2 linked regions of the Homo sapiens genome follow. The protein of the gene in region 2 interacts with the protein of the main gene of each other region in a biochemical or structural test. Each region holds a gene or a part of one and is shown on either strand. Other genes may lie near its edges.

Region 1 (7,000 bases), on a different chromosome or scaffold from region 2:
ACAGAGGCCAGGCGTCCCAACCCCACAGTCTGGGGGCCACTGGCAGGATGGCACTTGAGCTGGATCTTCAGGCTCCTGCAGATGGGGCAGGGTGGTCATATCCCCCTCCTCTCTCTCTCAGTCGTGAGTCCTGCCTTCCCCCACCTAAGGCACTAGCTCTTCCTGAGCACCAGCGGCATCCGTCCGTCCGTTGTCTGTTGGAGGAGTCCCTGGGCCTTCACTTCCAGATGGGTGGGGATGTGGCCTGGGGTGGGCGGGGCCCGGTGGGCGGGGCCCTATCAGTGCTGGGCTCTGCCTGTAGCAGCTCCTGGTAAGAGTTGGGGTGGGCCTTCCCTTACAGCCCCTGAGGGAGGGACCCCAGGCTGTGTGCTGGCAGGAGGGGGTGGGAATGCAGGCCAGGAGGACGTGGTAGGAGGGGGAGTCTGCCAGAGGAGGTGCCAGGGGCTGGGTGGAGGTGGGTGGGGGTGCTGAAAAACGAGCTGGTGGGGATGGGGACCGCCTGCCCAGGGGTGAGCTGCCTTTTGCTCCACAGCCGGCACTAAAGACAATTCCCAATCCTGAGTGGGTGGCAGAGACTCCTGCGATGCCCGTCTCAGGTAGCTGTGGGGCACCAGCCCACAAGCCGAGGTTGGCTCTCCTAGGAGTGAGAACTGCCCAAGGGCTGCAGAAACAGGCCACCCAGCTCTATCTGGGGGCTCCATCGGTGGGTAGGGGGACAGTGGGGGCAGTTCTGGGCCCACCCAGCCACTGTTCCTGACCCCAAGTCCTGGTGACTTTCTGAGGTGCCCACTCCCATCCAACCTGCCTTGCTGGCCAGCCTTGTGGCTTTGCCCAGCTGTGTGTGTGAGGGTGGCATGCCCACCTCCAGTCCAGCCCAGGGCGGTAGCAGCAAAGCGTGGCATCGCCTCGGTTTCTTACAAAAATTCATAATAATATTAATAATAATATACTCGACATTGTCGGGCTGGGGCGTGGCCCGGGAGTCCGTGTGGGGCAGGCAGGTGCCTACGAGGGGCAGGGGCGTGTGTTGGCCCCGGCCTGGGCGCGGTGCTGCAGGTCCAGGGGCTGTGGGGGCGGGGCGCCGGGTCGGGCCGAGTGCAGCACCAGGTTCTTGACACAGCCTGTGATGCCTGAGGAGAATCTGCCCCCGGTCAGCGTGGCCACGTCAGGGGCTCCGCCTGCCGGGAGGTGAGAGGACAGGGCCTGTGGGCTCCAGCAGCCCAGGAGGCGAGGAAGGCTGGGCGAGCTCTAGCCCTAAGGGAGTGCCGTTCCTGCCCCTGCCCTGAGAAGGAGCCCCAGACTTACCGATGTAGACGCTGCCCTTGGCGTTGACTGCCACGTTGGGACCTGGGGACCGGCCGCTGACCAGCTCCTCACCGTCGACTTGGATGGAACCTCTGCGGCCCTCCCTGCAGTGGAACTGGGTCAGGCCCCTTTCCACAAACTTCCTGGTCCTCCCCGGCCCCACGACAGAGTCCCCTCCCTCTGATATCGAGACTCCAGACTCAGAAGTCTGTCCCTGTTTCCCAAGCTCTTTCTTTCCCCCGCTGAACGAGAGATCGGGCCCCACAAACACAGCTTCCTCATTTCTGCACCCAGGTTTCCTCCCACTCCTGGGGCACTCGCCTGCCCCCAGCGGAGTTCAGTCCGAGATGGAAGCCCGAGCCCTGGCTGGTGGGTTCTCCCCTCCCCTGGCTTCAAGTTCTGTCTCCACAGAGCTCAATACCTGCCTCTCTGCCCATGGTAGGGGGCGTCCTGCCCCACTCCAGAACGCTGGGCCCCATCCCGAGTGCCCGGCAGGGTCCCTTACCGCAGTGCTGTCACCCGGTGCCACTCGCCGTCATTGATGGGGTCCTCAGAGACCAGGCGGGCCTCCCCACTACCCAGCTGGTACCTGCAGTCATCCAGGCCCAAGAAGTATGAGCTGGGGCAGGACCGGGGGGTGGGGTGCTGGGACCAGGGAAGGGAGAGGAAGGGCCAGGTGCCAGGACCTACCTGAAGACAAGGTGCCCGTCTTGAAGCCCGAGGCTGATGAAGTCCTTGCCTTGGCCGGCCTCTCCCACCTCCTGCCAGGGAAGCACAGGGTCTCTGGGGTCCCCAGCCTGGAGAGCAGAGGCTGCCGAGGCCAGGGGGCTCTGCTTTCCCCTCCCCCCACCACTCCGGCCACCAGGAAGCCAGCTTCCTGCCCCAGGAGCCCCAAGAGCCCAGCCGGATACCCACACTCACCACACCCTGCCAGAGCAGGAGGCCACTGGCTGTGCTGGTCCGAACCTCCAGCTCGATGGTCTCGGGCACCTCGGGCAGGCTGCGGAGGAAGAGCGGGTGAGGGGACAGAAGTCCCAGATTCCCATCCTCCCCATTAGGCCCATGGGCCCTTCCAATGCCAGTCTCACCTCCTGGAGAAGACATGGCCAGGGAAGGCGAGGAAGCCATCATCGTGGAAATAGGCTCCGTACTGCCCAGGGGCATCTGTGGGAGAGAGGAGGGTGGTGCCATACCTGCTGCATCAGGCATCAAAATCCCCCGTCAGTTCCCCTGACCCCCACCTCCACGCCAACATGCAGGACTAGGGGGCTCCGAGCCTGCAGTCCCTGGGGACCCACGGGGGCTGCCAACAGAATTCAGGGAGCCTATGACCTTGGATGGGAAAGCATTACACCTCAATTTCACTCACTTCTCACTGAAATTGAGCAGTTCTTTCAATGAGATGTAGGCAAGAAACCAAAGTAGCAGTGGTAGGACCTGCAACTTTGTTACTAGTATTTGCTTATCACATGACAGTAGCTGCAAATATTTCAAAATATCATTTACACATATTGCTGCTTTGAAATTGTGGTAGCTACTGAGATCACCAGATCTTGTTATTTGATGTGTTAATAAAGAAGCACATATATAGCAAGTCAGGAAACTTAAAACATGTTTTGATTACTTTACTTCAGCATAATTGCTTTCCTTAAATCAATGTATTTTATTTTATTTTATTTTGTGTAGTCAACAGGATCCGTGTCGGGTGACCCGCCATTCTACTTGCCAAATTCTGTCTGGCTTTAGCCCTGAAAGTCCCACATCCCAAGAAACCCCTCAGTCCGGAGCTACTGGGACCGTTGGTCACCTTGGACTGTGGCAATAAATGGTTCAGAGCCTTGGTGTTCTCTCCATCTTACAGAAGAGCAGGCAGGCTTGGGCGAGTGACTGGCCCAGGATGTCCATACTGTGTGTGGCTCCACACCCCCCCAGCCCTATCTGCTCATGACCCATCCCACAGGCCGGCACTGGCCACAGTAGCTCTGGCAGGGGACAAGAGTAGGGGACCCTCTGCTACCCTCCACCAAATGATGAGGAGAACGGCTGACATTTACCTAACACCTATGATGTGGCTGTGCGGGGAGCGTCCCATCCAGCTACAGACACCACTGCATTTAACTCAATCCTTACAACAACCCTATGAATGAATATTATATATAGATAATTTTTATTTTATTTATTTATTTTTGAGATGGAGTCTCGCTCCGTGGCCCAGGCTGGAGTGCAGTGGCACAATCTTGGTTCACTACAACCCCCACCTCCCAGGTTCAAGCAATTCTCCTGCCTTGGCCTCCCGAGTAGCTGGGACTACAGGTGTGCACCACCACACCTGGCTAATTTTTGTATTTTTAGTAGAGATGGGGTTTCGCCATGTTGGCCAGGCTGGTCTCGAACTGATCTCAGGTGATCCACCCACCTTGTCCTCCCAAAGTGCTGGGATGACAGGTGTGAGCCACCGCACCCAGCCTTATTTTTTATTTTTTTGAGACAGGGTCTCAGTCTGTTGCCCAGGCTAGAGTGCAGTGACACAATTGTAGCTCACTACAGCCTCGACCTCCTGGGCTCAAGTGATCCTTCTGCCTCAGCTGGGACCATAGCCATGTGCCACCACACCCAGCTAATTCTTAAATTTCTTGTAGAGATGAGGTCTCCCTGTGTTGCCCAGGTTGATCTTGAACTCCTGGGCTCAAGCAATCCTCCTGCCTGTCTCCTGAGTAGCTGGGACCATAGATGAGCACCACCATGCCCAGCTACTTTTTGTATTTTTTTGTAGAGACAGGATTTCGCCTTGTTGCCCAGGCTGGTCTGGAACTCCTGGGCTCAAGCAATCTGCCCGCCACAGCCTCCCAAAGTGCTGGGATTATAGGCGTGAGTCACCATACCCAGCTGAATATAGTATTTTTTTTTGAGAGGGAGTTTCGCTCTTGTTGCCCAGGCTGGAGTGCAATGGTGCATGCAATCTTGGCTCATGGCAACCTCCACCTCCCAGGTTCAAGCGATTCTCCTGCCTCAGCCTCCGGAGTAGCTGGGATTATAGGCATGTGCCACCACGCCCAGCTAATTTTGTATTTTTAGTAGAGATGGGGTTTCTCCATGTTGGTCAGGCTGGTCTCAAATTCCCAACCTCAGGTGATCTGCCCGCTTCAGCTTCCTAAAGTGCTGGGATTACAGGCGTGAGCCAGTGTGCCCGGCCAGCTGAACATAATATTAACAACAGCTAACATTCTGTACTGACTCTGTACCACACATTGTTCTAGGCATTTAAAATGCACTAAGTGGCCGGGCGCGGTGGCTTATGCCTGTAATCCAGCACTTTAGGACGGTGGCTTACGCCTGTAATCCAGCACTTTAGGAAGCCAAGGGGGGCGGATCACCTGAGGTCAGGAGTTAGAGACAGGCCTGGCCAACATGGTGAAACCCCATCCCTACAAAAAATACAAAAATTAGCGGGGTGTGGTGGCAGGCACCTGTAATCCCAGCTACTCAGGAAGCTGAGGCAGCAGAATCGCTTGAGTCTGGGAGGCGGGGGTTGCAGTGAGCCGAGATTGTGCCACTGCACTCCAGCCTGGGTGAAAGAGCAAGACTCCACCTTAAAAAAAAATGCACTAAGTAATTTTACTCTCACATAAAATTTTATCCAAATCTTTAGGGAAAGATGTTACTCATCTCCATTTTATATGAGGCACAGAGAGGTTAAGCGACTCACCCAAAGTTCCACAGCTAGTAAGTGGGAGAGCTAGGATTTGAACCCAAGCAGGCTGGCTCCAAGTCTATACTCTTACCCACTATACCACTGCCTCGCCTATTATATTAGTGATACATAAGAAGAGATGTGTCTGTAAAGGGGTTAGCACAGTGTCCGTAAACATTCAATCAGCATTCACTCTTCACTGTTTCCTTAGCTTTTCAGTAGACGGTGGAATTCTTGGGAATGAGGGTCTTGCTTTATGCATCTTATATTTACTGCTCTCAGGGCAAGGATGGGCAACAATAGTTTGTTGACTGAATACATGAATACAGAGGAGGAAACTGAGGTCAGAGTGGTTTCAAAGGCCTGCCCAAGGTCACCCAGCCAGTAAGTGTGGGGCAGGCCCTAGCTCCACATGGCTGTGGTCTTCATTCTGTCTCTCTGCCCAGCAAGCTCCTCATATAAAGCTGTTTTGCTTGCAGGCCAGAATTGAGGGTGTGGGGTAACTGGAAGAGTGAGCTGAGCTGAAGCTGGGGAGGAGGCCATGGCAAGTACTCACCATTGCCCCCGCTGCCTTCAAGATGCCAGTCGGACTCTGCTATGCCATGTCCAGAGCCTATGGAGAAGGGCAGGGTCCAGTTGGTGGGCATAGACACCCGTGGGTACTATGTCGAGCTCCGGGGCCCCAAGACAGAGATGAAGTGGAGAGAAGCCAGGCCTGGGTACCTTGTTGGCAGCGTGGGCCAGAGAAGCCAGGGAGGCAGAGGCAGCGGGTGCCCTGGCAGGTGCCCCCATGCAGACAGGGTTCACGGAGCTGGCAGGGGTTCTCCTCGTGCTCACACAGGTCTCCTGTGGGCCAGGGCAGAGGCGAGTGGGTGGGTGGGCATGGGCTGGAGGTGTCGCTGACCACCTGTGCCCCTCCCCTCCGGTGCCCTGGGCAGGCTTTCCCACCTTTGAATCCATCTCGACACAGGCACTGGAACTCATACTCGCCAGCGGGCATGCACGTGGCACCATGTTGGCAAGGCTGGCGCTCACATGGGGAGCTATCATAGCATTGCCCGATGCCCTGGCTGCCTAGGAAACTGTAGGTGAGGTCCAGCCGTTTGCCATTCACTGACACCTGTGGGGACAGGGACACCGAGGGACTAAAGGGGCCTGGGAGGCAGAGACCCAGGTGTACCAGCAGGGAGAAGAATGCAGCAGAGGGGAGCTGGGAGCCCACATTGGGCCCTGAGTGGTAGCATGGATTCTCGGTGTGGGGAGGGAGGCGCAGGAGTTGAGTGCCTACTGTGTGCTAGAAACATTCATCCGTCAGTGCAGACAATCCTCTGCCCAACCTTTCAAAGTAGGTGTGATCATGCCCATTTTACAGAGGAGGAAACTGAGGCTCAGAGGTACAGTGTCCTGGCCCAGGGCCCGTGGGTGGCTGCAGGTGGAGGGGCCCAATGCCAAGGTGCTTGGAGAGCCGAGGGGGACACAAGGCTTGGCACCCCTCCCCTCCCGCTTGTCCCGAGGAGGCTGCTCTTACCTCGCCCACACAGCCGCGGAAGTGAGCGCTCATGTTGGTGGCCGGGGACAGTGGCACGGAAGGCTCCACACCCCCCAGGTAGAGCAGGGTGTGCAGGTTGAGGCCCTGGCTCTTGCCGGGCGAGGAGCGCAGCACAGGGCGTCCACCATTCACCCGCAGGCTGCCGTCCTTGTTGAGACGCTCTGCAGACACACGGTGCCAGCGGCCCAGGGCCAGCGGCTCGGCGCTCCGCAGAACGGCCAGCCCTGGGGAGGATGCCAGGCAGGGTTGGGCACATGGGGGCACACGGGGCTCCCTGCCCTCTCCACCACAAACAGGGCCCTGAGCAGATGGGGAATGCCCTACAGCCTTCTGTATTCCAGATGAGGAGCCCATGGCTCAGAGAGGGCTAGGGATTGGCCTCAAGTGACACAGAGACGAAATGCACAGGAAGAGGGGACTTGCCCTGATCCCTGCATTTATCCTCCCATGCCTCC
Region 2 (7,863 bases):
CTATTCACAATAGCAAAGATATGGAATCAATCTAAATGCCCTCAATGGTAGACTGGATAAAGAAAATGTGGTACATATAGACTATGGAATACTTTGCAGCCATCATGTCCTTTGCAGGAACGTGGATGGAGCTGGAGGCCATTATCCTTAGCAAACTAACACAGGAACAGCAAATCAAATATCATATTCTCCCACTTATAAATAGAGCTAAGTAGTGAGAACAAATGGACACAAACAGAGAACAACAGATACTGGGGTCCACTTGAGGGTGGAGGGAGGGAAGAGAAAATATAACTATCAGGTACTATGCTTAGTGCTTCGGTGATAATCTGTACACTGAACCCTTGTGACATGAGTTTACCTGTATAACAAATCTGCACATGTACCCCTGAACCTAAAAGATCAAAAAAAGAAAAAAAAAGAAATATGTGTTGGACCACAATTTCAGATATGCAAAGAATAACATATAAATTTATATTTATAAATATAAATCAACCTAGCTTTAATTTTGAGAATTCTGCTCTTCCAGTTTGGTAAAAAACTTAACTTCAGTTATTCTAGGGTTTCCCTCTTCTGTTTCAAGATGGGATAGATTTCAAGAGTTTTATGTATGGCCAAAGCTAAGGCATCTGGGTGTTGAGTCATTCGTCTACCCTGATTCCTCTTCTGGGGTATTCATTCACTCTGTTCACACAGTTTCTACAGTTCTGAACTCCCTCCTACTTCCAGAATTATTTTAAAATATGGGAATGTTTATGAGGGGTCCTTATGGACCTATTTGTTCAGACACATGAGGCAGCCCTGATTCTCTGGAGTATTGCTGCCTCTGCTATGTGCGGTGGTGCTGTGTACAGATAAATATACAAGCATGGCTCCCCAAATATGGGGGCCATAAATTTTCTCTATGCTCCCAGGTCCATGGGACTCTGTGATAGCTTCCCTGGGCTGCTTCTCAAATGCACTCTAGTGCTTCCTTTATTTTCAGTGCGCTTGGCATGACCTTTTGAAAGGGATTCATGTTTTACCCTAGTCAGGAAGCATTTATGACTTTTTTCCCTCAACCTTTCCTTTCCAATATCTTTTTGAAAATATGAAGAACAGAAAAAAATGGGATAAATGAACACAGTTTAATATTTCATAAGCCCATTCTGCCAATAGGAATTAAGTTTTGACCAGAACAGAGGCAGAGTAAAATTCTGATCATGTCACTCTTCTGCTTACCATATTATAATGGCTTCCTATTGCTCCTGGAATACAGATCATATGCCTTAATAAAACACATGGAGATCCTGCCTGCCTCTCCAACCTCTTCATGCACCACAGTCCCTTCTCATTCTCTCTACTGGGACCAAACCTGTGTTTCACTGTGAAAAGGACAGGTTTTTTTATTATTATTATTTTTTTATTTTTTATTTTTGTATAGTACCTCTTCACCTGGTTAACTCCCATTCATGCTGTAAAGTTGCAGCTTTAGTGGAATTCTTGCAGGGAAAGCTTACATATTGCCACTTATTATAGATACTCATGGCACTATGTATCTTTTCTTTGTAGCACTTGTCCATGATGGTTACCTTCTCTCATAAGAAGAGAAATGCAAAGGATAACTACAATTTAATGGCATTTTCACTTGTCAGACTAATAAAACTCCAAATGTTTTCACAATAAATTTTTTGAAATAAATGAGTACTCTTACCTACTGCTGGTGGGATTATAAAACTAGCACAACCTCTGTGGAGGATAAGTTGGCAATATCTTTTTTTTAATACCTTTTGTCCCAGGCAGTCTACTTCTGGAAATTGATCCTATAGATTTATTTTCGTAGTATAAAATGACATATTTTGTCTTTATTCATTACAGCATTTCTTTGGTAATAGAAAAGTACTGAAGAAAATTAAATGTTCCTCAATAGGAGGCTGCTCAAATACACTGTGATATACCCATTCGGTGGAATACCCTGTAGCTATAACAAAAACAAAAATGTGAGAAGCTTCCTAAATAATGAGATAGGAAGATTTTTCTGTTAAAAAAAAATACAAAAAAATGCATATGACGTGCTACCTTTTGTATAAAAAGGGTAAAAGTAAAAAATAATATGTATGTGTATATACATATACACACAAACATATGTATCCAGTTTGCCTGTACAAGCATAGCGAAACTCTGAAAAGATACACAAGAAACTAATAAAAAGAATTATCTATGTTTTGGGGAAGAATGAAAACTGACAGGATATGGAACAGAATAAGATGTAAGAATGAAAAGTAATGAAAATATTTAATTATGTTCCCTTCTACTGATTATATTATACATGATTATGAACGAGGCAAAGTTTTGTTTTTCTTTTTCAGATGGAGTCTCGCTTTGTCACCTAGGCTGGAGTGCAGTTGTGCGATCTCTGCTCACTGCAAGCTCTGCTTCCCAGGTTCACACCATTTTCCTGCCTCAGCCTCCCGAGTAGCTGGGACTACAGGCGCCCGCTACCATGCCCGGCTAATTTTTTTGTATTTTTAGTAGAGACGGGGTTTCACTGTGTTAGCCAGGATGGTCTCGATCTCCTGACTTTGTGATCCATCCGCCTCGGCCTCCCAAAGTGCTGGGATTACAGGCGTGAGCCACCATGCTGGGCCAGTTAATTCTTTGAAGCCAGCAATGGTGTGTTAAAAAAGAAAATTCAATCTACAAATAACAAAAAAAAGACAATAGTTCAAAGTATTCCTGTGCTTAATCTATCACTATAGGTCTATTAAAACAAGAGCAACAAACGGTTGCCAATGTATAACTTAAAACATCCAGAGGGTTACCCCATCTACAGTTGCCTAAAGTTATTCTTAGTTCCTGGAGAATTCATTTAGAAGCATAAGCATAATAAGGGCACAGTGAAATCTAAGTTTGGTTCTCCATTATAGCTGTGGTCCTAATGAATTGTGGGCCCATCCTGAATTAATAATTCTCCAATAAAAATGATAATCAAAGAATTTAAACCATTGATACAGTTCCCTTGTTGATATTAATCTGTTCATTAATATTACTTGGATCATATTTCCAAATTACAGAGTGTAATAGCATCTAATGCACTTTCATAGATCACAATTTTATTCTTTTGTTTCCCATTTTACAGTTAATCCTATGTAGCAGATATTAAGGAGGCACTAAGCACTCTTTGCTAACAAACTATCCATTTCTTTCATTTAAGTATTTAGCACTTAGTTAGCAAATGTGGACTTCTCACTTACTGATTTCTTGGTTTAAAAACTGTAGGTTCAGTATGGAACAAATGGATTTAGTAGCTCTTGAATATCTTTACACTGTAAACTTACTATTGATAACTTTTATTTCTTTAGAAGCAATATCTAAGTCCTAGGAATTCTGAGCCTGCTCATTATTGTTACCTCCCAAACTAGCGGAGTGTGATTCAGAACACAATAACATTATATTTTCTTTCCTCCTTCTCTTCCTCCTTTTAGAGAATACATGATAGGATGTTTTCAGCTTTCTAGCTTTCAACAGATGCAATGATCAAAGAGTCTGTCCCCCTCTGCTTTAATAAATGTGGAACATTCAACATTTGGCATATGAAGAGTAACTGGGTACATCTGAACTATTCTGTGCTCTTCATTCTGTTCCCTAAAGGGACAGATACAAAGAGAAATCACATAAACTATAATCCAGTTGAGTAGATTTAATTTCCTTTTCCTATTTGGTCTACATGCACCACCTGGTGGTAAAGTAGTGCATTTCACATAGAGAGAGAGAGAGAGAGAGAGAGAGTGTGTGTGTGTGTGTGTGCGCGCGCGCGCGCGTGCACGCGTGTGTGTTTTGAGGAGTATATAACATGAAAAAGATAATTTTAATATACTTTCTTAATACTGATTTAGATAGACAACACAATTATTCTACACCAAGAATCTAATACAACACTTGAGCACTACTTCATGTATAACAGAACAGGAAGTAAAGGAGAGAACTCATGCTGGAAAGTAAAATAGCTTTCACTTATTTACCTTAGCAATACATATTATAATTCCATCTCTAAATTAACATTTATTGTTCCAATATTCTTATTGAGGCAAAAATCAAACACTGATAATCAATGTGAAACCATTTCCTCCTTTTTAAAGAATAACAGCTTTTAAAAGTAGGTGCCCTGTTCCTTATATTAGTAGTGAGTATAAGTCACAGATCACAGAATTGTAAAGCACCATAGAGGCATTAGACCAATACACCAATTTTACAAATGTAGCAGCTGAGACTCTGGAACAGCAGGTAACTTGCCCGAAGTCATACTGGTCATTAGTGGTCCAACACAAATAAGAATCTAGATCTTCTCACTTTCAGCCTAGGAATATAATACATAAAAATTGTACTTATATTCATATTCAATGAATTGTCTCTGTATGATGTGATAATATTCAACTTATCTACACAGTGCTTTAAGGCACTCATATGTTAGTTAACACATACCAGTTTTGTTCTAACATTCTGAGCACAAAGAAGTAATTGAAGAAATGCATGTATCATAAAGCTATGGAAAAGATTTTCTAAGTATTAAAAAACCCTATATATATGTTCAAATGAATAATTTTCCAAGTATAATACAACTGCTATATTGCAAAGAAGGTTTAAAAAATTCCCTTTCCCCTTCTAACTGCTTCAGAACCAGAGATCTGTTTCTACAAAGTAGGTACCCACTTGTAGATTTAAGCATAAAACATGTTCATAGCTCCCTCTCATGACCATTGAATACTATACAAGCCTCCTTTTATTCTCGCTGTTGTATTCAACTAACAGCTCACTGGCTAAGTTTTAATTGCTTCCAATGAGGTCAGCAAAGGTATTTATCGAAAAGCCCTGAATAAAAGGCTCACACACACACACAAGCACACACGCGCTCACACACAGAGAGAAAATCCTTCTGCCTGTTGATTTATGGAAACAATTATGATTCTGCTGGAGAACTTTTCAGCTGAGAAATAGTTTGTAGCTACAGTAGAAAGGCTCAAGTTGCACCAGGCAGACAACAGACATGGAATTCTTATATATCCAGCTGTTAGCAACAAAACAAGTAAGTTACTGTTATTTGTCTTTTAAAACAATGCTGAATGTTTTCTAAAAGTTTATCTCTTTTTCTGATTTTAGTACTGAGCAGGAAAGTAAAGTTACAAGATTTTTGAGCCATGTAACTATAGTAATTATGCTGTAGAACATAAAGATAAGGTTGAAGTTCTCCAGAGCAATCCTGACATTTAACTTAAAAAACCTGGGCAGTTCAGGAGAAAATAATTGATTAACCACAAATGTAAAAGCATATAATAAAGAAGTCTAGGGAGAAAGCAGTTACACTTTGTTAGCAGTAATTGTAAAAACTTAATTTAAATCAATAGTTCTGAGTGCAGTATGGTTCTCACAAAATAGCAATTGGAATGAATGGTACAGTCATATTCTGTTTTGTCTCTACTCATGCATAAATTTTATAAATCTACACATAAAGTGGTAAAGATTTTGACATCCTCTGTGAAGGCTGTTTTAAATGTATCTTCAAAGAATAACCTATACTGTATTCTAATGCTACTACTTACCCACTAAAATTTACACATACAATTTTTTATCTTCCTCTCTCCTCCCCTCCCTATTCTTAATCTCTCATTGCAAACAGAAGTCAAATAGCAAACAGCGTCACAGCAACTGAACTTACTACGAACTGTTTTTATGAGGATTTATCAACAGAGTTATTTAAGGAGGAATCCTGTGTTGTTATCAGGAACTAAAAGGATAAGGCTAACAATTTGGAAAGAGCAACTACTCTTTCTTAAATCAATCTACAATTCACAGATAGGAAGAGGTCAATGACCTAGGAGTAACAATCAACTCAAGATTCATTTTCATTATGTTATTCATGAACACCCGGAGCACTACACTATAATGCACAAATGGATACTGACATGGATCCTGCCAACTTTGCTCTACAGATCATGCTTTCACATTATCTGTCTAGTGGGTACTATATCTTTAGCTTGCAATGACATGACTCCAGAGCAAATGGCTACAAATGTGAACTGTTCCAGCCCTGAGCGACACACAAGAAGTTATGATTACATGGAAGGAGGGGATATAAGAGTGAGAAGACTCTTCTGTCGAACACAGTGGTACCTGAGGATCGATAAAAGAGGCAAAGTAAAAGGGACCCAAGAGATGAAGAATAATTACAGTAAGTAATTTTAAGTACTGCTCATGAACCTTAGCAATCTGTTAATGGATCAATTTTCAGGTGATATGTTTTCTCATCTTCCTTTTGCTTCTTGGAAAAAAAATTAAATAAAATGTCACCTAATTTCTCTAAATTGAACTATGTTGAACTATGCCCCTAAAAATATCTCTTTTAACAGGGCAAATCTACTTACATTATAGTTGGACCTGATAATCCAAGCCAATTTGAAAATATATACTCCTTGTCCTGAAAATGCTCATAAGTTAAGCAAAATGTAAATAATATTATTCACACCAAAATGTGACTTAATATTGTCTAAGCAAAACTCATTAAGATATCTAATTTAGAACTTCATAAATTATCACTAAAAGCTATTTATCACTAGTTTAAAGAGTAGGGAAATTATTTTTATTAATTTGATTTTCTTTGAAATAATATTTTCATGATGTAAATTAAAATACTTAATCTGTGCTAAGATATGCATTCCTTTGCAATTGTGTATAATGATAAAATAGAAGGGAATCTGTGGTATCCTTATTCATTTGAGTCATAATGAGCTTGTATTAAGTTGATGACTTATCAACTTAGGCAGAAAAACAGATCTCTCCTAACGTTTTCCTTAACTAAATCTTTTATGTCATAAAAGTTCTGTGCTATCTTAAGAAAAATGTAAAGGTGAGGGGAAAAAAGTGGGCTGGAAGAGATGGTAATTCCATGTTTTTCAATTTAAAGCCTTACATTTTTCCCAAGAATCAGTTATTCTTCTTATGTTAAAATATCAGGGTTGTGTTTTGCATTTAATGGTTATGATGAATAACCAACTTCAATAGTATTAAATGTAATGGAATAAGATACACACCTCAACATGTACATTAAGGATTTAAAATACTTAGTAAAAATAAATTTTGTTTACATTACTAGCACTCAGAAAACATTGTTATTAATATATAATTTCATATTAATTGTTTTAAAGTCATTTGAAAAAGAATGCATGGGGAGACTGGTGTAAACATGTGCAAATCACAGTGCCAGGCTTGCAGCAATTACTCAAACTTTTGTTGCCTGTTTACTGAATGACTTTTAGGGTTCTGAACTAATCAACCAATCAATGGGAATTTCAGAGAATTATGTTTCCAATATGAAAATGAGAAGACCTTCTTTTTAACCATAATTGATATAGAATGTTAAGGCCATTTTAATGACTGGACAGTTATGGTTTTATTATTATTATTTATTATTATTACTGAGATTAATAAAGGTATCATGTTAGTTCTAGAAGATCATTCTTATTATACTAAAGTTTATCTAAGGAAATGACTATTTGGAGAAAATTTTTTTGATATCTACTTCTATATAAGCAACAGAATTTGGCTTATAATTAATTTATTTAAAAGTTGCTCAGATTTATCATGGATAATATCATGGATATAATAACAATATTATATATTATCATGGATAATATATATCAATAATAATATCATGGATAATAAAACCTGGTGGAGACGACAGAGCCTAGGTAAAAATTATGACACATGGGGCAACTCCCTGTCTACGAATGATCTGGGGACAATTTCTTTGTTTTTCTGACCCTCAATTTTTCATCTATAAAATGTGGGATAGGTACAGATGATTTCCATGATACTTTCCAGTTCTTATAG

What was found. The genes of interacting proteins can lie anywhere in the genome.
Region 1: the proteins of FGF7 (region 2) and HSPG2 form a complex in vitro, tested with the Homo sapiens proteins (one study listed by BioGRID).

What each region holds. Positions count from the first base shown.
Region 1 is NC_000001.11:21,822,311-21,829,310, forward strand, and holds part of HSPG2 (basement membrane-specific heparan sulfate proteoglycan core protein isoform b precursor), read right to left. Parts: intron 6,770-7,000; coding exon 6,525-6,769; intron 6,117-6,524; coding exon 5,945-6,116; intron 5,843-5,944; coding exon 5,720-5,842; intron 5,610-5,719; coding exon 5,553-5,609; intron 2,916-5,552; exon of another isoform or gene 2,470-2,915; coding exon 2,394-2,469; exon of another isoform or gene 2,306-2,393; coding exon 2,227-2,305; exon of another isoform or gene 2,067-2,226; coding exon 1,996-2,066; exon of another isoform or gene 1,895-1,995; coding exon 1,811-1,894; exon of another isoform or gene 1,410-1,810; coding exon 1,306-1,409; exon of another isoform or gene 1,179-1,305; coding exon 1,006-1,178; 3' UTR 1-1,005. UniProt on the Homo sapiens protein: Integral component of basement membranes. Component of the glomerular basement membrane (GBM), responsible for the fixed negative electrostatic membrane charge, and which provides a barrier which is both size- and charge-selective.
Region 2 is NC_000015.10:49,418,379-49,426,241, forward strand, and holds the start of FGF7 (fibroblast growth factor 7 precursor), read left to right. Parts: upstream 1-4,863; 5' UTR 4,864-5,062; intron 5,063-5,653; 5' UTR 5,654-5,919; coding exon 5,920-6,205; intron 6,206-7,863. UniProt on the Homo sapiens protein: Plays an important role in the regulation of embryonic development, cell proliferation and cell differentiation. Required for normal branching morphogenesis. Growth factor active on keratinocytes.